Homo sapiens: one gene and its partners. The protein of the gene in region 3 interacts with the protein of the main gene of each other region in a biochemical or structural test. Each region holds a gene or a part of one and is shown on either strand. Other genes may lie near its edges.

Region 1 (3,500 bases), on a different chromosome or scaffold from region 3:
AAAAAAAAATTAAAAAGAAAAAGAACGAAGAATCAATAGAAAAACGGGGAAAAGATAGATACAGACAATTCACATATGGGTAAACCTGACTGGCCAAAAAACATGAAAATAGGCACAACTTCAATAGCAATCAGAAAGGTACAAAGTAAAACAACAGAGGTATTTTTTTGCCCATCAGATTGGCAAAACTAATTAGGCAACCCTAATGCTCAGGCTTAGCAAGGGTGGGGAAATGAACACTCTCACAGCAATTCCTGGAGGTATCAATCAGCAAAGCCATTCTGCAGGGCAACTTGGCAGCTTCCGTTTGTACTTAATATAGGTGTGCCCCTGCCGACCTAGCAGTTTCACTTCTTGATAGCTACACCAGCGAAACCCTTCCACACATGCTTCAGCAAGCATATAGAGCAGGGGTATCCAATCTTTTGGCTTCCCTGGGCCACATGGAAGAATTGTCTTGGGCCACAGATAAAATACACTAACACTGGCTGGGAGCAGTGGCTCACGCCTGTAATCCCAGCACTTTGGGAGTCCGAGGCGGGCGGATCACGAGGTCAGGAGATCGAGACCATCCTGGCTAACATGGTGAAACCCCGTCTCTACTAAAAATACAAAAAAAAAATTAGCCGGGCGTGGTGGTGGGCACCTGTAGTCCTAGCTACTTGGGAGGCTGAGGCAGGAGAATGGCGTTAACGTGGGAGGCGGAGTTTGGAGCTTGCAGTGAGCCGAGACTGTGCCACTGCACTCCAGCCTGGGTGACAGTGCAAGACCCGTCTCAAAAAATAAATAAATAAATAAATAATAAAAATAAATTTAAAAAAATACACTAACACTAACGATAGCTGATGAGCTAAAAAAAAAAAATCGCAAAAAAATTCTTAAATGTTTAAACAAAGTTTACAAATTTGTGTTAGGCTGCATTCAAAGCCGTCCTGGGCCGCATGTGGCCCACAGGCTGCAGGTTGGACAAACTTGATATACAGGGATGTGCATTAGAGTAAGGTTTTCAACAGAAAAAAAACAAAAAACAAAAAACAGAATGAATCATTAATTAAAAAGTGACTCCAGGCCGGGAGCAGTGGCTCACGCCTGTAATCCCAGCACTTTGGGAGGCCGAGGCAGGCAGATCACCTGAGGTCAGGAGTTTGAGACCAGCCTGGCCAACATGGTGAAACCCCATCTCTACTAAAAATACAAAAATTAGCCAGGCGCGGTGGCAGGTGCCTGTAATGCCAGCTACTTGGGAGGCTGAGGCAAGAGAATCGCTTGAACCTAGGAGGTGGAGGTTGCGGTGAGCCGAGATCATGCCACTGTACTCCAGCCTGAGCAAAAAGAGTGAAACTCTGTCTCAAAAAAAAAAAAAAAAAAAAAAAAAAAAAGAATGACTTCACTATGGTACAGCCACACTATGAGATATTATGGAACAATTAAAAAGAAGGAAGTCAGTATGTGTGGTATGTGTGTAAGGACAAGGAAAGATCTCCAAGAGAAAGTATTAAGTGTAAGAAGAAAGCTAGATCATAACAAGTGTAATATGAACCCTTTATGTTAAAAAATAGAAAAGACTCACCCAAAAGGAGAACTATAAATTTCTATGGGTACGTGTATATGTAAGTAAATAGGAAAGATCTGGGAAGATACACATCAAAGTGATAACAATGGCTAAATCTTAGGAGGAAGTAGGTGTGGAGGGGGATGGTCAAGGAGATTTGAAACTTTAAATTTCTTACAAGAATATATTCATATATTTTGGTCAGTTGTGGTGGCGCATTCCTGTAATCCCAGCTACTTGGGAGGCTGAGGCAGGAGAATCACTTGAACCCAGGAGGCAGCGGTTGCCATGAGCCGAGATGGCGTCACTGCACTCCGGCCTGGGCAACAGAACAAGACTCTGTCCCCCCAAAAAAAAATATATATATTCATATGTTCCTAATTAAATTCAAAATAATGTTATTGTTACTAGAAAAAGAAGGGAGAGACTGGGTGTGGTGCCTCACACCTATAATCCCAGCACTCTGGGAGTCTGAGACAGGAGAATCACTTGAGCCAGGAGTTGGAGACCAGACTGAGCAACAAAGTGAAAACTCATCTTTACAAAAAATTAAATTAAATTAAATTAAAATTAAATAAAGAAAGAAGGGATAGAAGAGAGTCTGCAAGTGGCGGTGTTGCATGGGAGTACTGGACTAGGAGAGGAAGCTAAATGATCAGATTGGAATGACAGAGAGAAGTGTAGCACCACTGGGGGCAGAAGTGAGCACCAACCCAGAAGGAGAGAGGCTCGGGGGGCTGTCAGGGAAAAGGAGAGAGCCAGACTAGGCAGAGGGAACCAGAGGAAGGTGCAGATAGAAGCTCACCATCGAGTCAGGGAGTCCTGGATGGCGTTGGTGAGTGCATGGCCCAGGTGCAGGGAGCCTGTCACATTGGGGGGTGGGATGCACATCATGAAGACACCTCGGGGATTTGCTGCTGACACATTAGGACGCTGATGGTGGAGAAGGATGGCACATGTTTAAGGCCTCAGGTCACCTCTCCCAGCCCCTCCCAGGCAACACATCCTTCAGTCCTGCCCTTCCCCACCCCACCCACTCTGGGCCTGGGCAGCAGTGCCTACTCACCCCATACTCTGGCTTGAAGAAGCCCTGCTGCTCCCACCAAGGGTACCAGGCAGCCTCCACATACCGAGGGCTGTAGGAGTCGGGCATGGGGCCACTGACATCTGGGGGAGAGGAAGGGAGGGCTCAGTGCCGTGGCTGGGAGCACTCTGGGAAGGAGACGTGCTGGCAGAGAGGGATCGGGATCTCCGTCACTCACATCATAGGACAGGCATTTGAGGGGCCTAGAGGCAGGGCAGGGGGTCTGCAATTCCTCACCAAACAAAGTGGTGAGAGCAAGAATAGAGCAAGATAGGGTGAAAACTTAGAAGGGGCTGCTGAGGGGTGAGCCCCTTCCCACTCCTAGTACCTTTCTTTTCCCCGGGTGGGGTTGGGAGGTCATAGGTAATGACCCCAGGATCCCGTTTCTCCCTCTTCTCTGGTTTTGGTTTCTTCTGCTTGGGAGGGAGAAGACATAGGCCCAGGCATCAGCCAACCCATCACCGCACACATCAACTTTCCTTCCAGCTCCACCCTCGCCTCACCTCCCCTGGAGGTGGCTGCTGCTGTTGGATCTTCTGCTTCTGTTGGAATTTCTCTAGCTTCTCCCGTTTCTTTGCCTCTTTCTTGAGCTGAGCAGCTGTCTTTGGGAGGGCAGGAGCCTCGGGGCCTAGAGAGAGGTGCAGAAATTCAGACTCAGCCAGCTGGGGACCCTCTTGGACGGCCATACTAGGTTTCAGATGGGGTATTTTAGATGCCCGAGGTCTTGCCCATGCTGACCTCCCCCCTCTCCCTCCTCTCCCGCAGGACCCTGCCCCAGTGATTCTGCCATTTCTAGGAAAAAAAGAAAGTGAGTTGCATGGAAGGCCCCAGGGAAGCCCCTATCCTCCAACTCCTCGCCCTTCC
Region 2 (3,500 bases), on a different chromosome or scaffold from region 3:
TATACTGGATCTTGAGGAGTCTGAAATACCTGGGAAGGTTAAGAAGTCAGGCAATGGCTAGTGCTTAGTGGTATGCCAACTGGCTCATAAAGACTTGGCATCCACCATCTTTGTCTTACTGTGTACTGTGTAAGAGTTAACTGGCTATGTCAGTGTCAGACACAGAACCAGCACAAAATCAACAGCCTGACAGATGCACTAACAGCTGCCTTCCCTTTGACCATGGTCTTTCCAACTACCACAGCTGCTTCCTCAGCATGCCACCAGGGCCTTTCCCAACATCCCCCATAACTGGCATTTTAACCACCTGCAAGCTCAACGTGTTCACTGTAATGTCATTGTCATTAAAACTGCACTCAATCCTGGGTTAATAAATGTGTTCAAAATAAGGACAGTCATCCTTATAATCTGTATTACCCTGAGCGCTGTGCTGAGTTCTAGAGATAATGACAAACTAATGGGTAATTCAGAAAAGTAATGAATGTGGTGAAGGATCATGACAAGAATACCATGTGATGATTGGCTGTAGGAACTATGGAATAGTTAGGTCCTACAAAAGATGACTTGACAGCTTGCTCAAATACTTAAAAGGGCAATGAGTAGAAACTGGAGTACAACTAGGATCAGCGGTAGAAATTACAGGAACAGATTTTGTTTCAGAGTGAAACCTTTAGAATAACTGTTGAGAGAGAGGAACAGGCTTCCTAAGGACACAGCAAGTTACACATGGAAGGAATTAACCTTGCTTGGGGTGGGGGAGGGATGGCATCTGGGCATGGTTTTATGCCCTTGTAGCCCAAGACTGTGGTCACCTGACGTAGGCTTTGATGCTCATGCGGCCGTTCTGGAGACTTGTGTCCACAGTGAGGTGGATGGGGTTGGGGGCCTCTCGGCTGTAGTACTCGTGGATCAGCACAGAGTGCTCTGTGATGTCATGGCCCGTAGCGTACCTGTGAAATGGAACACAGTGGTGGACTCCTGTCTATATGTGGCGTCAATATCAAACACAACAGTGGCATGGGTGTCTTCAGGGTACCGGACACTTCTACGGTAGGACACCTAGTGACACCAACTGCCAAGAGCAATACACACACCGAAAACTATGTCAAATAAAATCAAAGGCTGACTTAGTGCTGATGAAAAATTCCAAGTCACTTACAAGGTAATTCGAAATATCCTGGCCCCACAGGATCAGAACCACCAGCAAAACCCACTGAATTCACAGTTCCTACAGGTAACACACTTTCCTTTTGTTTTTTAGAGACAGGGTCGCACTCTGTCACTCAGGCTGGAATGCAGTGGCAAGGCATGATCATAGCTCACTGCAACTTCAAATTCCTGGCCTCAAGTGATCCTCTAGCCTCAGCCTCCTGAATAGCTAGGACTATAGGTGTGTGTCATCATGCCTGGCTAAGTTTTTAAAAAATGTTTTTGTAGAGACAGGGTCTCACTATTTTGTTCAGGCTGATCTTGAACTACTGGGCTCAAGTGATCCTCCTGCCTCAGCCTCCCAGCTGGGATTACAGGCATTGAGCCACTGCTCACAGTCAGTAATACACTTGCAATACTCTTGCCTCCAAAAGGAAGAGTATAAGATCCAGTCCAGTAGCAAAAGACACCGGCAATCACGAAGAGACCTTCCATTAACCCCAGCCCCCACCTCCCCAACTTACCAGCCCAGGATGAGCTCATTTGGAGAAACTTTTTTATGCAGTTCATACATATTCTTAGCAAATTCCATGTCAACAGCCACCTAAGAGGGAAGGCAGGAAAGCAAGCTAAGAAGCCAGAAGTCCAAAGAAAAATTGGTTAAAAAGGACAAGAGGCCACCCCCAATAAACAGAAGAGGCCCAGGAAGTACGTACAAATGGGAAGAAGCTCCTTGGCTACAGGAGCTCTAGTTATGAGTGTGGGAGGGACCGTGAGGGGAGCCGAGCAAATGAACAGCTAAAAACTGCAGAGGGACAGCTTGGATTCCCACTCACTTCATCTTCTGACTCATTGTGCGGCACTGAAAAGCAATTGGTGACCTCCACTGAGTGTTTGTCGACAGTTCCTGTGAAAGAGAGAATCGTCCATGTGTTATATAATCCTAGGGCTCCCAACAACCTCTGACTACTTTTGAAATGCTTTTGATGATCTCTTCAATGTCAATGAACACCTAACTGAACTCATTAGCTCCAAGTTTAGTCCGGTGCATCGATGGGACCAGAATTCTCCAGGGAACTGAAACTGTGGTGTGATCGCCAACTTCTCCCTCTAATCATCACCAAATAGGGTTTATTCTTCCTTTACAAGGTCTCCTTTTGCCTGTTACTCTCCACTACTAGCCTATTCCAGACCTTCACTCTACGGCCTTTTTTTTCAGCCTCTACACTTTCTCCCTGTAATTTAATCTGCAGAGCTACCTGGAATATTTTAATGGTTACATAGACTGCTAATATAGTGGCCAAGTTTCAGACACTGAGACGTCAGGAGCTTCATCTGTACCTCCCTTTAGCCATCTGGTCCCATGGTCAGTCTTAACCTTATCATCATCCAGAAATCTATCTGCGAACCTTAGAAGTCAGTCTTTTACCACAAACTTTTGTTCTAGTTCTGATACCTTTACTTCCATATTTCTTTTTTTCTTTTTTTTTTTTCTGAGACGAAATCTTGCTGTCGCCCAGGCTAGAGTGCAGTGGTGCAATCTCGGCTCACTGCAACCTCTGCCTCCAGGGTTCAAGTGATTCTCCTGCCTCAGCTTCCCGAGTAGCTGAGACTACAGGTGCGCATCACCACGCCCAGCTAATTTTTGTATTTTTACTAGAGACGGGGTTTCACCATGTTGGCCAGGCTGGTCTTGAACTACTGACCTCAAGTGATCTGCCTGCCTCAGCCTCCCAAAGTGCTGGGATTACAAGTGTGAGCCATGGTGCCCAGGCTGTATTTCTTTTATTTATTTATTTATTTATTTATTTATTTATTTATTCCCACTACATTTGTTTCTTGACCTAAGACCACTACGTTGAGTTTTCCATTCTCTTCTAATCTATTGGAACCTCCTACCCCAGGATTTAAAAGTTTCCCTCTCCACCAGAAACCACAGTGTTGTCTATATCTACCAGTGTTTATCTAATTCCAACTCACTATGGTTTCTGCTCCCTTCACTGAAACTATGTCCCTAAACCAAATGCACATATATCCTTTATCTTATTTGACCTCTCATCAGCGTTGAACAGACTTGACCACTTACTTCCCATCTTAAAACTTTCCTTCTAGTTTTCTTCCTACCTTTCTAATCTTGTTGGCTACTTCTTCCTGACTTTTTAGGTTTTTAGGGTTTTGTCTCTGTTCTCTTGTCTTTTTATTCAATGTTCCTTTTCTAGGCCAGGCCCTGATCTAGAAATGTTTTTTGTGAATAAAGTTTACACGCCAATTTTTTTATGGCTGCTTTCTTGCTACAAAGGCAGAATTAAGTAGTTGTGATAGAGACTGCACACAAAGCCTAAAATATTTAC
Region 3 (3,500 bases):
TACGCTAAGTAATTAAACTTAGACTTCTAAGTCTCATCCCTAAATTGGGCCTGAGTACCCTCATCCATTAAGAGATGGGTAAGACAATATATATTGTCCCATCCAGCTCTGAATTTCTATTACTCTAGAAATGGCAAGCCCCAACTCATAGATGGGAACTTAAATGCATTCTACACCAAATCCATTTCCATATTAACTTCAACAGGTACCATGAGAACATTACTTGTGCCTCATGGTCCATTCATTTACCTAAATCGGTTCATTTAAAATTTTATTCTACTACTACTCTTCCTTCCACTCTATCACTTTTCCAGAGATGTACAACACAAACATACATATAAAACACCCACAAGCCCACTTAAAATATAACACCAGAAGATCAAAGTCATAAAAGACTCAGAAATTATGTTTACAAGTAAATAACTTCAATGGAGACTGAAACAGAAAAATTCTGATAGCTGTCCTCACTCTGAAACAAGATTCATGTACCTCTAAATGTCCCCTGTAAGTCCACTGAACCTCAAAACGTCTTCCATTTATCTTGTCTCCAAATGAGCCAATTCAAAATATCAATATGATTTTAGTGTTTAATAATACCTTCAAATTCTCCCCCCTTCAAAAAAAAAACTTTCCTTATTTTTGAGACAGGGTCTCACTACCTTTCACAAATGAGTGTTACTCTAACTCTTGTCTCTCTCTCACTTCAATATTTTTGTTATTCCCATCTTCCTTCTACCATTCCAAAGAGTTGATTTAAAAAACAGTTATGGGGCCAGGCATGGTGGCTCACGCCTGTAATCCCAGCACTTTGGGAGGCTGAGGCAGGTGGATCATTTGAGGTCAGGAGTTCAAGACCAGCCTGGCCAACATGGTAAAACCCCGTTTCTACTAAAAATACAAAAATTAGAAAGGCGTGGTGGCGGGCGCCTGTAATCCCAGCTACTCAGGAGGCTGAGGCAGGAGAACTGCTTGAACCCGGGAGGCGGAGGGTGCAGCAAGCCGAGATCGCGCTACTGCACTCCAGATAGAATGGACGATAGAGACTCCATCTCAAAAAAAAAAAAAAAAAGAAAAAAAGAAAAGAACAGTTGTGGGAGTGACCCCCAAAGGACTCTGTTGGTGTTCTCGAAACATAACAGGTCTTCTCTTCTCTGCCCCTAAGAACCAGTTTGGAGCTCCATTACTGCTAAGCGAACAGCTCCACAAGAAAAGTGGAGACACATACTACTTTCTCTCAAGTTACAGGACCTCAAATGGTATCCCAGGAGACCTCCAAGTACTGATCAATAATTGGCCAAAATATCAAAAAAAAAAAAAAAAAAGTCACCTCATTCCAAGATGTAGGGCATACTTCACCAAATTGAGACCACCACTCGTTAGAATCTTGTCTACTGGAGTTTTGCCTCCCAGCACTTCTTGCAAACCCTGTGTCACCCCTTCTGACTTTCCACTGATTTTTCAGCTGTTTAAAGTGTATATAATTTACCCATGAGAAGTCAAGATCTTTAAAAACAGGAAACAAAGGCAGACAACAGAAAAAAATTCAGTACACATAGAGAAAGCGTTTTCAAAAGGATATCAAATTTTACAACATTTTACTAACAGAAGGAAGCCTTTATACTTACAGTCGGTACATATTCCGATGGAAATTTGTTTGTTGTGTAGGATATCAGGAGACATGTTTTACCAACAGCACCATCGCCCACAACAACACACTTAATTGTCTGCATTGCTGAAATAGTTTTGTATCCACTTTAAATATTTCAAATCTGATGATGACCTGCAAAAAGATTAAAGACATTTGTTTATTTATACTTACATATGGATTTTTCTTCCTCACTTAGCAACAGGTTCAGGCACTCAGAGCAAGAAAAGAACTAGCACAATTATTATGGCTAAAAGAACCCAATAAGAGACACAATGACTTGCTATAAGTTACAATAACAAATAAGGTCCATTTCTAAGTTTCTGATCCCTGGCTATTCCAACTTCTTAAGTGTTATTTTTAAAAGGTCCAAAGTGGTGTGATAATCAGCGAATTTATTTTTATCATGAAAGAGAAGAGGCTGTATCAGAGAAAATTCCACAGTGTGCTAAATATTATTTTGTGAAAGCTGTTCTTCAGTTACACGTGCACACACACCTGTATGTATGCATGTATGTCAACTAGACTGCAATACAAAGGCCACTGCTTTAAAGAATGGTTCATGATCCAGCCTTATTCAGCCTTACTCAGGCTCTGACCAACAAGCAGCAGAGCACCACACGATCACACGGTAATTATATGAGTAACGTGAGGAACTGAACAAAGAACAGGGTGATCGCTGGCCTCAGCAGCTGTTTTAGCACCAGAATGCCTAGTCCAAAACCTACATTTTTATAATGAAAAAGTCAGATTGCTCTAAAGCATACTGACTTATAAACAGATACTATAGCTTCTCTTACTAGAGTCCTCCTCCATTTTAAGAAGCTATCAATTACAAGTACCAAAGAGTCATTAATTTGAGATGCTTTTTTTCATGTTAACATCTCTAAAGTCAGAATGTATCTTTGAGTCTCTTAGAATCATTATCAGCCATTTTTCCCCCACATTTTGACTTCTATGAAATTGGAATCTTAGATTCAATGAAATACTTTAACAGTTTTCTGAAAGAATAAAAAGAAACACCACCCAATATGTACCTAAATTTTAAGATTTATATTTAAATTAATTTAAATTATAATCCTAAAGGGGTTATAATTAAACATAAAAATACAGAACCACCTAACTCTTGGTCAGATGCCACCATGCTCCTATAGCACCATTCACAACAATTAATCATAACAATTTATAAATGCCTATTAACATCCCTGTAAATGAACCTATACTACCTCATGCACCACTATACTTCTAGCACTGAGCACTTCTAGACTGACACACTGTGAGTTGTTGATTGGATGCAAAAATCACGAAACAAAAGAACATGAAACTACATTAGTGTGAGTAACTCACATGAAATATACACTCTCCCGCTCCTCATCAAAATTATCTGCAGTATATTTTTCTTTTTTTTAGACAGGGTTTTACTCCCGTCACCCAGGCTGGAGTGCAGTGGCACAACCTCAGCTCACTGCAACCTCCACCTCCCAGACTCAAGCAATCCTCCCACCTTGGCCTCCCAAGTAGCTGGAACCACAGACGCATGCCACCATGCCCGGCTGGGTTTTTGTTTGGTTTTTGTTTTTTTAAGAGACGGGTCTCACTGTTACCCAGGCTGGTCTTGAATTCCTGGACTCAAGCAATCCACTCACCTCGGCCTCCCAAAGTCCCAGAGTGCTGGGATTACATGCATGAGCCACCGCAGCCAGCCATATTTATCCTTCTTTATTCAACTTCCTTTTATATCTCCTTTTTCCTTCTCCTTTCCCTTTTATGCACTAAGAAGCACCCATACTAACTAATACAGCATTAAAGATTAACAACCCTGATCCCTAAGATCAATCAATTACTGGTTAAATCT
Region 4 (3,500 bases), on a different chromosome or scaffold from region 3:
GTAAGAATAGGTGTGTGTTAAATTTTCTTAACTATAAAGGCATCAAACATTGCCTAAGGGCTCTTGATTTTTACCTAGCCACATGGGCTGGCTTCATCACAAAAACATCTGATGGGAGTGAGATGGGCAGTGACTGACTGTCCCTGCCTCATTTCTGAGACTGGCCACATGTTGGGATGAAATATGGCTGCTGGGGTAGTGGCCACTGAGAGATTTTTGTTAACGTCTTACCTTTCAGCCAAGTTACATGCTACAGTCAGAAGAACTCCGGGCCTCCCTCCTGGCCAGGTATCCCCCTGAAAAACTCTTCCAGGCAGAACGGAACTTCAATGCTGCTCAAGACTTGGATGTCTCACTTTTGGAAGGTGACCTGGTGGGTGTGATTAAGAAAAAAGACCCCATGGGCAGCCAGAACCGCTGGCTGATTGACAATGGAGGTAAGAATTTTAAGCAGCAGAGGACTGTAACTGGAAAAAAAAAATAGTAGTTTTGGCTGCACCCGAATCTGGACTAGGCCAGGAAAAAAAAGCAAAAAGTATCTTTGATTAAGGGGAAAAATAACCTGAAAAATAACCTTAACCTTCTCTAGAGAGTGAAGATCATTACTGAAACAAAACCTCTTTTTGTTTTGACAAATTCCAGAGGAGACACCGTTGCTTATCATGCAAGCTCTTGCCATATCTTACAGCACTTACAGGCAGGAAGTCCTGCCTCACGGAATCCTGTTCCTTCTTAGCCTGTTCCCAGTATGCCACAAAATAAGCTGCCCTCTTTTCAAATTTTTTTTTTTTTTTTTTTTTTTTTTTTTTGTGGCAGTCTTGCTCTGTTATCCAGGCTGGAGTGCAGTGGCACAATCATAGCTTATTACTCCTGGGTTCAAGGGATCCTCCTGTCCTAGCTGGGACTACAGGTATGCCATCATGCCCAGCTAATTTTTTAATAATTTTATAGATATTACGTCTTGCCATGTTGTCCAGGCTGGTCTCCAACTTCTAGGCTCAAGCCGTCCTCCTGCCTGGACCTCCTAAAATGCTGGGATTATAGGTGTGAGCCACCGCACCCAGCACCTCTTCCAGTTTCCATGAATTTGTCTTGTGGAAATTAAAAACCTGTGGGATTTCATTTGCTTTCTTCTCCCCATGACAGTTTTACCTCATGACTATTTAGGGAATTACTTTAAAAACAGCTTACAACTTTTTTGGAGGGAGAGTGATTTACAGAATTTAAGTAAGTGTACAAGGGATAATACTGATCTGTAATCCCTTTTTCCAAAATCCAAAAAGCTCTAAAAACACTTTTGCCAAAACCTGAATGAAGGTGATGTGAGACTATTTATAATTGTAACTTATCCTTTTGGTGTGAATAGTCATGTGTATGTATTTTTCATTTTTATTATTTTTTAAGACAGGGTCTAGCTCTGTCACCCAGGCTAGAGTGCAGCAGCACGATCTCAGCTCACTGCAACCTCTGCCTTCAAGCGATTCTCCTGCCTCAGCCTCACAAGTAGCACGCACCACCACACCTGGCTAACTGTTTGTATTTTTTGTAGAGACGGGGTTTCACCATGTTGACCAGGCTGGTCTCCAACTCCTAACCTCAGGTGTTCCATCCCGCCTTGACCTTCCAAAGTGCCAGGATTACAAGCATGAGCCACGGCACCTGGCCTTATTTTTTTTTAAATGCTTGATTGCAATCTGATTCAGCCAAGAGGTTGCTCACATCATGGGTGGATGACTACATCTCCAACATGAATGACACAAAAACATCAGAACTTTCCTATTTGCAATTATGTGAGATACTTTAAGTTTTAGTTTATAACTGACACATACTTGTTCATATCTATGGGGTACGGTGCGATAATTTTGAGATAGGGTCTAGCTTTGTCACCCAGGCTGGATTGTAGGGGCACAATCTTGGCTCACTGCAGCCTCCACCTCCCAGGCTCAAGCAATCCTCCTGTCTCGGCCTCCTGAGTAGCTGGGACCAGAGGCATGCGTGACCATGCCCAGTTAATTTTATTTTAGTAGAGACAGTCTCCCTGTGTTGCCCAGGCTATAAACTTGTCATTTCTTTGCAGAGATATCATTCAGAATCCTTGGCTTCTAGCCATCTTGAAATATACATTATCATTAGCTATAGTAACCTTACTGTGCAATAGAACACCAGAGCTTATTTCTCCTAACTTTGTACCTGTTGAGCAACCTCTCCCCAGACTCACCTCCCCTTCCACCACCCCCAGCCTCTGGTATCTAGCATTCTACTCTCAACCTCTATGAGATCAACTTGTCTAGATTCCACGTGAATGAGATTATATGGTATTTGTCTTTCTGCGCCTGGCTCATTTCACTTAACGTGTCCTCCAGGTTCAACCATGTGGCCGCAAATGACAGGATCTCATTCTGAATATTCATTAACAGAATTGATTACGGGGTGCTGACCCTGCTGGGGGGTTTTACAAAATATGTAGTATGGGTACTTGACTACCTTCCCAGAATTAAAAAGAATCTGAATTCCAAAACATATCTGGCCCTAAGCATTTTAGGTAGGGATTGTGGTCCCTATCTAGACAGACATTATGTATTCACCACCCAGAACTGAAAAATGTCACATTTCTTGGTTTCTTTAAAAGCATCTTGTGGATTTTTTTTCTCCCCACTTCTGCTTACACAGAACGAGAGATTAAAAGTGGGACACGAAGGACAGAGGATGGAGCCTGTTAGGGTGACATCAGGTGACAGCTACTGCTGGGGTCAGAGACAGATGGACCTAAAGTCCCAAGCTGTTTAAGAAACTGCTCCATCCTTCAGTTTTTATCTACTCAAACTTGAGAAGTGGTAGCAGGAAGCCACAGTATTCAGATCAGCTGTCAGGTACAGGAAATGCATCAAAGATCAATAGAGTAATGGCCATTGTTCTCATGGAGGCTACATACTCTGGGTCTGTGCCTTGACAGTGTTATGAAAAATTGTCACGTGGATGCTCACGCAATCCCTAATTTATACTTGAGTTTTAGCTGAAAGCCCCCTTGGTCATCTTGGGCAATTTATTAAAGTGAACCATGTGCAGTACACGTTACGTGTATATTCTAACAAACAGTTTCCTACGTTAGAACATCCTTCCAGTATATCCAGACTCTCAGAGCAAAGGATTCACGTGTCCTGGTGGGAAAGAGGGCAGGGAGGTCTATGGAGGGGCTTCTTGAGCTGAGGCTTTTTTTTTGAGACGGAGTTTCGTTCTTGTTGCCCAGGTTGGAGTGCAATGGCATGGTCTTGGCTCACTGCAACATCTGGCTCCTGGGTTCAAGCGATTCTCCTGCCTTAGCCTCCTGAGTAGCTGGGATTACAGGTGCGCACCACCACATCCGGCTAATATTTTCGTATTTTTAATAGAGACGGGGCTTCACCATGTTGGCCAGGCTGGTTGTGAACTCCTGACCTCTGGTGATCTGCCCTCCTCAGCCACCCAAAGTGCCTGGATTACAGGTATGAGCCACTGTACCC
Region 5 (3,500 bases), on a different chromosome or scaffold from region 3:
TCATAATCTCCCCGCCTCGACCTCCCAAAGTGCTGGGATTATAGGCGTGAGGCCCTGTGCCCAGCTGGCACTTAACATTTAAATCGTATTAAATTCTTACCAGCAGTATGTGAAGTGTCTGTCACAACAGAAAAGATATGCTGGAGAATATCACAAAAATAAGTTTGATAAAAACTCTGAGCTGCAGCTTCTTCTTGTGCAACATTTTGTAAGAGTGTAAAAAGTATCTGTAAGCCTAAAAGACATAGAATACCAATGGAAAGTTACTACAGACTGACAGCACTCATGATAGTATTTAGCTCTTATCAAAGTATTCTGAATCTAACCCTGTTCTCCCTTTTTTTTGGGATGATGACTAATAATTACTTGCATAAGGTTTCTTAAATTAATAATGGAATACAACTATATCCAATGCTGGCTTACTTATAAATTATAATAAGTTGTGTGAGAGCTAAACTGTGAAGATGTAAAGGCATAAAGATCATATAATGGACTTTGGGGACTTGTGGGGAAGGGCAGGAGTGGGTGAGGGATAAGACTACACATAAGGTGGAGTTCATACACATGAGGGATAAGACTACACATAAAGTAGAGTTCATACTGCTCACATGACAGGTGCACCAAAATCTCAGAAATCACCACTGAAGAACTTATTCATGTAACCAAAAACCACCTGTTCCCCAAAAACTATTGAAATAAAAAAAGAACCTCATGAATATTTTTTAAAAGCCTATGGGAAAAAAATTACAATCTAAGTTATGACTATTACCACCCTTTCACCATTTCTGAAAGCTCAGCTGATTCTATATGAACTTCTACAACATCACTACCCAGTAGAACTTTGTATTACGCAAACCAATTATTACTAGGCCGCTCTCCCCATAACTCAATTCTGCCTATGGACTCACTTGGAGTGGAGTGGAACAGTTGATTAAACTGCTTATAGGATTTTCTCAGATGTTCATATATGTAATTCACACACTCAAAACTCTGAACAAGTAATACCTTCCTATGTACAATTAACTATATTTGTATTTTTGGATTGGCAGGCAAATGAATAAAAGAACATCTTTTATTTACCCGTATCTGCGACATTCCTCATAGTATGTTTGAAAGCCCAAATGATGGAATCCAAAACAAGTTTAAACTGTGTAGGTGGAATAGCAAGGAATGCTGGGAAACAATGAGAATTGACAGCCTGAAGTAGTAAGAAAAAGTTCGTTCTATGTTCAGGATATTCTTCAAAGTCCTAAAAATAAGTGGTGGAAACAAAATAATGTTTCAGTGTCTTTGTTGTGCTAGACAGGAGGGGAAAAGCAAGGCTTAATCCAGTATAAATATTTGGAGTTTTCAATAAACCACAGAAGATAGAATGCCTCCTGAAAGGTAAACCCAAGTAAAATACAATCCACCTCTCACGGAAAATGAAACTGTCCCGTTACGCACATGAGTTATCAAATTGAAGGAGAAAGACAACCTTTTTAATAGAGAACTCATCTAAACCATTATTACCATAAGACTACTACTATCACTTTTGTTTTTAATTTGAAATCACCACTACAGATTACAAAAAAATTTAAGTTACCGTGTAAATGTGTCCACTTAACGTATCTTTTATCTCTTTTTTCTTTTTAAACAGTCTCACTCTGTCACCCAGGCTGTAGTGCAGTGGCGCAATCTCAGCTGACTGCAACCTCCGCCTCCTGGGTTCAAGAGATTCTCCTGCCTCAGCCTCCCGAGTAGCTGGGACTACAGGCATGCGGCACCATGCCCAGCTAATTTTTTTTCTTTAGACAGAGTCTTGCTCTGTCACCCAGGCTGGAGTGCGTGGCGCGATCTTGGCTCACTGCAAGCTCCGCCTCCCGGGTTCATGCCATTCTCCTGCCTCAGCCTCTCCGAGTAGCTGGGACTACAGGCGCCCACCACCACACCCGGATAATTTTTTGTATTTTTAGTAGAGACAGGGTTTCACCATGGTCTCCATCTCCTGACCTCGTGATCTGCCCACCTCGGCCTCCCAAAGTGCTGGGATTACAAGCGTGAGCCACGGCACCCAGCCTAATCTTTGAGTAGAGATGGGGTTTCACCATGTTGGTCAGGCTGGTCTTGAAATCCTGACCTCAGGTGATCCACCGGCCTCGGCCTCTCAAAGTGTTGGGATTACAGGTGTTGAGCCACCACGCCTGGCCATTTTTGTATTTTTAATAGAGATGGGGTTTTGCCACGTTAGGCAGGCTGGTCTTGAACTCCCGACCTCAGGTCATCCGCCCGCCTTGGCCTTCTGAAGTGCTGGGATTACAGGTGTAAGCCACCATGGCCAGCCTATTTTCTCTTGTTAACACATTTTTCAGTTTCTTATAAGCATATACTACACTTTTATAATTGAAACATGCAGACTTACTTTCTCATTTATTCAAACCAATTAATACAACTACGTTCATAAAAGGATGCCCCGACCTATGAGGTTTCAATAAATGCTACATACCATGTGAATGCTAAAATCTGTTTTCCATATTTACTTTTTACCAATCAAGATTCTGTGTAGTAAATTCTTCTTCTTGGAGTGCAGTGGCGCAATCTCAGCTCACTGCCATCTTGAACTCCCAGGCTCAAGTGACCCCCCCCCCCACTTCAGCCTTTCGAGTAGTTGGGACTACCGGCACATGCCACCATGACTGGTTACTTTTTGAACTTTTTGTAGAGATGAAGTCTCACTATATTGCCCAGGTTGGTTTCAAACTCCTGGGAAGTAAGTTCTTGAAAACCAAGAAAGTATTTCCCTAATATACAAGTTTAAATATTTAAACTCCATGGCATTAAAATTATGTTATATCCACAGACATACTTTAGCTTTCAAGAATTAAGGCTATCCTGCAGAATTTCCCCCTTACATAACTGAAATATTACACACCTTATTTATCATATTCAATGTGCATTCAAAAACAGCATCAAATATTTGAGGTATTTCAGCTGTTATATGTCCCCCTAACTTGTTGACAATTATGGCCATAGTACTAAGCACTTCTGGTTCTCTAGCAGCTGGGACATTTCTCTGATAATCAATGAGAACTGCATCCAACAGAGGGGGAACAAAATTTTCAGCGACCTGTTGGGGAGGGAAAAAAAAGTTATGTTTTAATTTAGGTACATGGTGACTATTTTAAACAACAAGGTTATTCCTGTCTATGAGATGTAGCATGATCATCTACTGAAAACAGGAAAATCTTGTGTTTGTATTAGGGTTTCCTACGTCAAAACAGTTTTTAGCAAAAGAAAGCAGGAAATCACAATGGGTTGGGAAGTCTCATGGACACACTGTCATTCAAGACTTTTTTTTTTTGAGACAGTCTCACTGTCACTCAGACCAGAGTGCAGTGGCAAATCTCTGCTCACTGCAACCTCCACCTCCCAGGTTCAAGCAATTCTTGTGCCTCAGTCTCCTGAGTAGCTGGGACTATAGGTATAGCACCATGCCCAGCTACAAAACTCTCACAATAAGA
Region 6 (4,108 bases), on a different chromosome or scaffold from region 3:
TTTCTCTTTTTGTCCTCTAAACCTATTTACTAGCCTTTGGCATTTATTCTATTCAGTCTCCTTATTGTTTCCTTCTCCTCATCTGAATCTTCTACCCACCATATCTAATCGAAAACTCTCTTCCTTTACCAATAATTTAAAATATGGCTCAAACTGTTAAAGACAGTTTTCATCTTGCCTAATAAGGATCAAATTTTTCTTTAAAGATAGTTAAAAAATCCATACTTATATGTTGTAAGCCCTTAATTAAAGCCTTACAGCAAGAAGCCTTTGAGTACGAATTTAGGCCACATTTGCCCATCCAAGGTATCTATTCTACCAAAAGCCCTTGACATTAATAGTCAACATTATTGTATCTACCCCACTCAGCCATTCTTGAAAGGGGAAAAAATCAAGGTTGCCAAAACTTTAAAAATTACTTTAATTCCAGAAGCCAAGTTCTAGGCATATGAAAAAGCTCTAAAATAATTAAAATATACCATTCCAGGATGCTTTAAAAATTTAAAGAACATCCCCGGTAGATCCAATGCTAAATCTAAAACCATCATCCATAGCAGCAGCAGATATGCTACATAGAACGACGTGCCAAGCAATTTTTTAAAACGCTTTACATATATTAACATTTAATTCTGACAACCTGAGTTAGAAAGAATTAAGGATAGCCATTACACATCTCTGTTGCAAGAGCCAGCTCCAATATATCAGTAAGGAGATGTGAAGATGAAATGTCAGAATTTTCACCTGTGAAATCAGAGTGCCAGCCCAGACATACATATTGTTCTCATCATACTGTGAGCTTCATAAAGCAGGGGCTACACCTTACTTCCTCACCACTGTATATCCAGTATTGTGCACAGTGCCTGGTACAAAGTAGGCATTCATGCAATATTTCCTAAAATAAAATATACTGGGGGAGAGGGCATTTGTTTTCAACTTAATGTTAACTCAGGTGAACTTAAGTTCACAACACAATTATTATTTCTGAATATTTGTATTTACACAGGAGAGGAAATGTACTGTAAATCAACCCATAATTTTAATAGAGCGAAGATTAAAATATCTTACTGAAAGCTAACTATTTTGCCAATTCTACAAAATGGTTGGATGCAAATTAATTCAGTAATCAAGACAAAACAAGAAAAGACTGTGGGTTTTAGTTCTAATAACCACCGAAAGTAATCCAGAAGCTGTGCTTTCACACTTTTAAAAAGGATAACATTTGCCTTTACCATTTGATGGATTTTTTCTTAATTTTTAAAAAAATTTTTGTAGAGACAGCCTATGTTGCCCAGACTGATCTCCAACTCCTGGCCTCAAGTGATCCTCCCACCTCAGCCTCCCAAGGTGCTGGGAGTACAGTCGTGAGCCGCCACTCCTGAGAACTTTTATACACACAACTATCAACTAATTCCAGATTTTATAAACCCAGCATTTCCATTATCTAAATTTCCAAGCCAACACGTTTTGCAAAATAAAACAATGTTAACCATCTTTTCAACTTCAAATCACTTTTGGTTGGGGGACGGGGAGACAATGTCCGTTTATTTTAATATGAAACAGAGAAACACCTAAACTGCCTTACGAAAACATCAATACCACCAAATCCTTGCACTTGTACCCTGACTGGCATAAACTGGCCACTTTCCTCCATCCTGGCATAAAATGGAGGCACCGCGTTGCCTCGAAAACAAATCCTCAGAAACGATTTTAAAAAGCATTACTGACAATTTCTTGATTAAGACACCCCAAACGCCAATTACCTGCTACAGCGAGTCTGCTTCTGAGAATGACCTTGAAATGCAATGGTTTGAAGTGTTGAAACAGAAAGGTGTTGAAAATAAAACACAGCCCACAATGGGTTTTCTGGTACAAACATTCTGGTTCCCTCCAGTCTGAAAGCCCAACCATAGCAGCATCCTTACTCCCAAGGAGGGGCCTACTTGTGGTGCCTGGGATGCCGGCATTGAGACATCAGACGACGCGAAGGCATAAGGCATGGGGCAGGGCAGACAGCCCTGAGCACATGAATAAAATGTGTTGTATTCAAAAACTGAAGTATTAAGTGGCACCTAAAAGGAAGAAAACTAGACCTAGGCATTACAGCTAGATCTCGAAACCTTACTGTCAGAGTGAAATCTGCAAAAATGATACTAGGTTATACCATTCGTATCACATCAACACTCACAAAGCAATACCATGTACGTGATGCGAAAGCATAAACAATTCACTGGAAGGATTAAAAAAACACACATTTTGAAGTCGGTTACCTCTGGAGAGGTGGGGAAAGGATGAGTTAAAAGCAAACTCCGTTTTTCCCCATTATGACCGAATACATAGGATGGGAACAAGCCTTCCTTTCAGAAAAGGACTCTAACCCTGGAGGCTGGAGGATGAGAAAGGGGCCTGAGAGAGGGAGGAAGGCGCGCATCCGCCAGCGGGAGTTGGAGGCGGGGAGGTGCAGAGGCGTGAAGCGCGCCGAAAAGCCGGGGGCGCGTCGGAGAGTCTATAGGAGCTTTCACGAGAGAAATGCCCGCCAAGGCCGCGCCGCACTTACAGGTTGATGGTGCGCTCCAGGGTGAGGGGCTTCGTCTGCTGGATGTACTTGTTGCCGAACTGAGTGACCCCCCGGGGCCAGCCGGTCTGCGAGCGATTGGGCGGTACCACAGACATGCTGGCGAGCTCCGGCGCTGACGGCGAGCAGAAAGTGGCAGGCAGGGTAGACTTTCCCCGTGCGGGAAGCGGTTATCTGCAATCCCCTCAGCGGCTACTGCCCGCCATTAACAGGACAGCGCAAGAGGAGGCGTAGGCACGCCGGAAGTGAACCCGGAGCCTCTGGCGGCAGGAAGTAGAGGGGCGGTGGCCTGCCAGACCGAGCTCCAGTGGGCCAATTGCTGGTGGGATGGCTGCAATAGCTGGAGCTCCCATTGGTAAACCGGGTATAGGTTCCGCCTTCTCTTACTTTGGTGCTTCCCATTGGGTAGGGCCGGGAAACACGATAAAGGGGACATGCCGGGAGTTGCAGTACCCTCAGGAAGGTAGCGTCTTGATCTGCGTGGCGTGGTTCTGTGCCTTGGGAAGAGATGAATGGGAAGCGGCCAGCGGAGCCCGGCCCAGCCCGGGTGGGAAAAAAGGGAAAGAAGGAGGTGATGGCGGAGTTTTCGGACGCTGTTACGGAAGAAACCTTGAAAAAGCAGGTGGCTGAGGCCTGGAGCCGCAGGACGCCGTTCAGTCACGGTAACCGGGTGCTCTCAGGGAGGGGCCGCCACGCAGAGGTCTAGGGATCTCTGAAAAAGCCCTGGGACTCGCGCCCAGCCTTGGGCAGCGGGGCCGCAAGGGAAGAGGCTCTTAGAGGACTTTGGCCACCTCCTACTCTCCTGCCTCGGCTGCTGCTCCCTTTCACTCCAAATTCGGTTGCAATTTAGAAACGTGAGAAGAGGGAGAAATGGAGGCCGGAGAGTTTTGGGAAGCAGAGGGTATGCAAGAGATAGTTGCATTCTGGAGTCAAAGATTACTGAGTTAGAATCCTCTCCCCTGATTGGGCGTCGCCAGGCAATGGAATTAACCTTATTAAACTTCAGTTGCTTCCTAAGTAAAATGGGATAGTTCATAATATTTACCTCGGAAAGTCGGTGAATGGGAGCGACACACTAATGCTTGCAGGCTTCAGTAAATGTTTCCCTGAGTAAGGCCCAATACACATGTGGACAAATACAGGAGTGGCTGATGTCATTTCTCCTGCAAGGGCATTGCTCAGCTGTCCCAGGAGAGTCTAGCCAGGGCATTTGTCGTGAGCTGCCAGCTTGACTCCCTAGTGTACTCGTCTCTACGCGCCTGTAGTTTGACTCCATGATGTATGAAAATAAACGCGCTTTGACCAAGGAAAGGCGCCTACGTTGAACGATTCCAGCCTCAGCTTTAAATATCACCTTAGGTGTTCAGAGCTCTGCTTCATGCGCCAGGCATCCCCTTCTAGAGTTTGCCGTAATTTTTCTTTCCGTTGTCAAGTGCTTTGAAGAGGTGAGTCCTGGGTAGGCTGGATGCCTATAGAAAACGATAGCTTAGTGTTTAAGTGCAGGCTCTGTACTCTCAGTTTCTTCATCTGTAGAAT
Region 7 (3,500 bases), on a different chromosome or scaffold from region 3:
CTGCCTCACTCACTCACTGCCCTTTTAATGGTCTGATAAACACTTTCAGGCAGGCGAATTAGTGCCACAGCTCACCTGTTAACTAGGCTGGAATCTGTTTTCAGTAAGAGACTGTCTCAGGCAAGGATTCTTTTAAAGTCTGTTTCTTAAATTGCTCTTTCTGGCATGACATCAATTAGTCACCCATAGGGCCACATGGGCATTGTGAGCAGGACTGGGTGCCTGTGTTAGGGGGTCCTCCATCAAGGGGCATCTCCAGCGGCACATTCAGAGGCCTTGGAGTCAGACGTCTCCTAGGACCAGCAGGAACGAAAGGGATCTGATTCAGGCCTGACTACTGCGAAAGATGCTGGAGCCAAATCAATGGTATGATCAGAGTTGGGAAAGGCTTACCAAGGAAGGGGGATAGCCTGGTCTGCCCGGTGGGCCCAAGAGATGGGCTGTGGGAACAGTGCATCCACGTGCTTGGTTGATGAAAAATCCCTCAAGACTATTTTGTCTGACTCCACGTTCACCGATTAACTTTCTGTCATTCTGTGATCCTAATATCTAGGAAAGGGTGGATATTCTGGTCAACTAACAGGAACCTCTTATGGGTATGGTTGTCATGAGTTCGGCTCTCGTAACAGAGATCAAATTGAACTTCTGTCCTGCACAGCTTAGGGGGCAGACTGTGGAATGGGGACCCTTTCAGGGGCTGCCACCCTGAAAGGCCTCCTTAATTATTTTACAATTCTCTGTTGCTGCTGTTTTAGTACTGTCTGTGCACTAACTGACTTGTATATTAACTTCTGGATGACAGCTCCAGGGAGGGCGTGTTAACTTCATGGTCCAGAGGGCTAGTGTGGGAGAAATGGCAACAGTCATGGCTGGGGCCAGAGCCAAGGCCAGATTGCAGAAATTAGCAGGCAAAAACAAGGTTCAGGGAGCAAGATGCTATTAAAGGGTCTGAGGTATTGAAAGAAGTGCTGCCTTTCCTTCCTGGCCACTTCAGATGGACAGTGGGGAGAGGGTCTACGGGTGAGGGCTCTCACTTTTTAGAGGGTGATGCAGAACTAAGTGCTCTTTCCTCTCTTCCTCTGCGAACTTGTTTGCATGGCTTGCTTTCCCTGGCCCCATCTCTCACTCCCCTCCAGATTAACTGTCCCTTTCCAATCTCAATGGTAACACAGATGAGGGAGGCTGCCATGTCCTCTCTCCTCCCTTCTAGCTGAACAACTGCTGGGCACGGTCTGGACTTCTCCAGGCTGGGGCCTCAAGGGAAGTGTGTGAGAAACCCCAGACTCCAATACTGCCACCTCACTCAGCCCCTGGATCAAAGACCAAGCTCGTGTGCCCCAACACTGGGCCCACCGGCCACACCAGGCCCACTTCTTGGCTGTCTTTCCACCAGCCTATGGACTCCATGGGGTCTTGCCAATACCTGGCACAAAGTAGGGTTCTTACTAAATATATATGCAGTGAAAGAACTGTGTATCACACAAACAAGCCGAGTGCTTGCCACTTGAAGGGCTCCCAGCATCACCCCACCGCACTGTGAGATCTGGGCAAAAGAATCAGCCCTATTTCAGAGGGGCTTGCTAGTGTTGCAGACTGGAACTTACTTTCCTGGCAGCCTCCAACTTCCCCAGAGAAGTAGAGCCCCAAGGCCCTGGGAGAGGAGGGCTTCCCTCCTCTCATGGACTTGACAGCCCACATCAGAGCCACAGCCAGATCTTACTGAAGGCCTTGGCCCTAGAGCACGGATCCTAACAGACCAGGCATTCCTGCCTGGATCCTCACACCCAGAGTCTGTGGATAGAATTCAAGGGTTCATGAACTTGTATGAAAAAAAAGTACATATTATTTCTACTAAGCACTAACTGAAATGTAGCATTTCCTTTGATTATGAATGCAGGCCACAAACCATAATATCTGATATTCTTTCACCCATAGTTTTCACGTGATATTTCACATCATATTACAACTACACACCAACAATTTTCAACATGCTGGCAACGTTTAGATCCATTGCTAGATCTTGTTGTTTAAACCATTAATAAAGAAGTACATATTTTAATAAATTAGTTTCCTTTGTAATTCTCTGTATTTTATTTTATGCATTTAAACGTAGACACAAAAGGGTCCCTTTGGGACTGGGAGTGGTGACTTATGCCTATAATCCCAACACTTTGGGTGGTCAAGGTGGGAGGACTGCTTGAGCCCAGGAGTTTAAGACTAGCTTGGGCTACAAAGTGAGCCCTTTATCTCTAAAAATAAAATAAAATAAAATAAAAACAAATTAAAATTAAATTTTTTAAAAAAAGGAGTCCTTTGGGCTTTACCAGTGGGTTTATAGAATGAAAAAGGGAGAACATGAGACCTTGGTCAGGCAAATTTGGTTCTGAATCCTTGCTCTGCCACCTGGCAGATTCAGATGGGAATTTGTTTTTCCCATCTGTTAAATGGGAAGTTGCTGAGCAGATTAAATGAAATGGTGTGTGCAAGGCTTTCAGCATGGCCTGGGGGAGCAAAGCTGTCAGTGGACAGGGCTTAGCTCTGTCCTTCAGAGGGTGAGGATGGGTCCTGCTGGTACAAGCTGCTGAGTGCCTGGCAGAGGAGGGATGGACCTGGAGGCTAGTCTGAGGGGCCACAGCTTTGCTCAGTGGCTGTGGGTGGATCTGCCTGGGTGGGAATGAGGCTGACTGATGACTGGGCCTCCCAGCATTTGGTTCTTCCCTTGGAGATGGGAGCATGGCAGGAAAGGCAGCTGATTCGGGTGCAGGAGAGACGCAAGAAGGGAAGGGACTCAGCAGCAGTTTCCCAGTGTGGTCAGTCATCTCCTGCATCAGAATCTGCTGTGCCTGTGTCCGGCTTCCCAGACTAGTTGGGCTCTCAGTAGTGTCGGATCACATGCCTACCCACTTGCTGGGCCTTGCCCTCCTACCCCACCCCAACCCAAGCAATGAACTTTTAAGAAGTCACACTTTTCAGAATTAATTTCTTTTTAAGAATAATTTCAATGTTAAGTAACTTTCATGATAGAAAAGCCAGACTTTCTAAAATCTTTACTTGGTGTGTTGACTTCTACAAACACAAAGAAAACTCAAGGGACAGAAAAGGCTTTTGTTTTCACATACAGTATTACGGTCTGAACTATGTCCCCTGCAAAAGTGATATGCTGAATTCCTGACCCTCAGGACCTCAGAAGGCAACTGTATTTGGAGATAGGGTCTTTAAAGAGGTGATTAAGCTAAAATGAGGCCATTGGGTGAGATCTTAATCCAATTTGACTGGTGTCCTCATACAAAGAGGAAGAGACATCAGGCATGTGCTCACACAGAGGAAAGTCTTCAAGTGAAGACGCAGTGAGAAGGTGGCAAACCAAGGAAAGAGGCTTCAGAACACACCAAACCTGCCCACATCTTGATCTTGGACTTCCAGCTTCCAGAGCTGGGAGAAAACAAATTTCTGTTATTTGATCTACCCAGGCTGTGGTATTTTATTATGGCAGTCCTAGC

What was found.
Region 1: the proteins of CDC42 (region 3) and VARS1 form a complex in vitro, tested with the Homo sapiens proteins (one large-scale study listed by BioGRID).
Region 2: the proteins of CDC42 (region 3) and EIF3F form a complex in vitro, tested with the Homo sapiens proteins (one large-scale study listed by BioGRID).
Region 4: the proteins of CDC42 (region 3) and DNMBP form a complex in vitro, tested with the Homo sapiens proteins (one large-scale study listed by BioGRID).
Region 5: the proteins of CDC42 (region 3) and XPO1 form a complex in vitro, tested with the Homo sapiens proteins (one large-scale study listed by BioGRID).
Region 6: the proteins of CDC42 (region 3) and NUDT21 form a complex in vitro, tested with the Homo sapiens proteins (one large-scale study listed by BioGRID).
Region 7: the proteins of CDC42 (region 3) and WIPF1 form a complex in vitro, tested with the Homo sapiens proteins (one study listed by BioGRID).

Annotation. Positions count from the first base shown.
Region 1 is NC_000006.12:31,789,253-31,792,752, forward strand, and holds part of VARS1 (valine--tRNA ligase), read right to left. Parts: intron 3,265-3,500; coding exon 3,140-3,264; intron 3,053-3,139; coding exon of another isoform or gene 3,050-3,052; coding exon 2,965-3,049; intron 2,720-2,964; coding exon 2,619-2,719; intron 2,486-2,618; coding exon 2,358-2,485; intron 1-2,357. UniProt on the Homo sapiens protein: Catalyzes the attachment of valine to tRNA(Val).
Region 2 is NC_000011.10:7,990,337-7,993,836, reverse strand, and holds part of EIF3F (eukaryotic translation initiation factor 3 subunit F), read right to left. Parts: intron 2,057-3,500; coding exon 1,986-2,056; intron 1,754-1,985; coding exon 1,674-1,753; intron 951-1,673; coding exon 813-950; intron 1-812. UniProt on the Homo sapiens protein: Component of the eukaryotic translation initiation factor 3 (eIF-3) complex, which is required for several steps in the initiation of protein synthesis.
Region 3 is NC_000001.11:22,076,709-22,080,208, reverse strand, and holds part of CDC42 (cell division control protein 42 homolog isoform 1 precursor), read right to left. Parts: intron 1,781-3,500; 5' UTR 1,731-1,780; coding exon 1,626-1,730; intron 1-1,625. UniProt on the Homo sapiens protein: Plasma membrane-associated small GTPase which cycles between an active GTP-bound and an inactive GDP-bound state. In active state binds to a variety of effector proteins to regulate cellular responses. Involved in epithelial cell polarization processes.
Region 4 is NC_000010.11:99,880,948-99,884,447, reverse strand, and holds part of DNMBP (dynamin-binding protein), read left to right. Parts: intron 1-238; coding exon 239-437; intron 438-3,247; exon of another isoform or gene 3,248-3,345; intron 3,346-3,500. UniProt on the Homo sapiens protein: Plays a critical role as a guanine nucleotide exchange factor (GEF) for CDC42 in several intracellular processes associated with the actin and microtubule cytoskeleton.
Region 5 is NC_000002.12:61,482,857-61,486,356, forward strand, and holds part of XPO1 (exportin-1), read right to left. Parts: intron 3,107-3,500; coding exon 2,912-3,106; intron 1,250-2,911; coding exon 1,081-1,249; exon of another isoform or gene 236-1,080; coding exon 101-235; exon of another isoform or gene 1-100. UniProt on the Homo sapiens protein: Mediates the nuclear export of cellular proteins (cargos) bearing a leucine-rich nuclear export signal (NES) and of RNAs.
Region 6 is NC_000016.10:56,448,533-56,452,640, forward strand, and holds the start of NUDT21 (cleavage and polyadenylation specificity factor subunit 5), read right to left. Parts: upstream 2,801-4,108; 5' UTR 2,671-2,800; coding exon 2,555-2,670; intron 1-2,554. Other genes in the region: prolyl 3-hydroxylase OGFOD1, read left to right, coding at 3,081-3,234. UniProt on the Homo sapiens protein: Component of the cleavage factor Im (CFIm) complex that functions as an activator of the pre-mRNA 3'-end cleavage and polyadenylation processing required for the maturation of pre-mRNA into functional mRNAs.
Region 7 is NC_000002.12:174,587,805-174,591,304, forward strand, and holds part of WIPF1 (WAS/WASL-interacting protein family member 1), read right to left. Parts: intron 1-3,500. UniProt on the Homo sapiens protein: Plays a role in the reorganization of the actin cytoskeleton. Contributes with NCK1 and GRB2 in the recruitment and activation of WASL.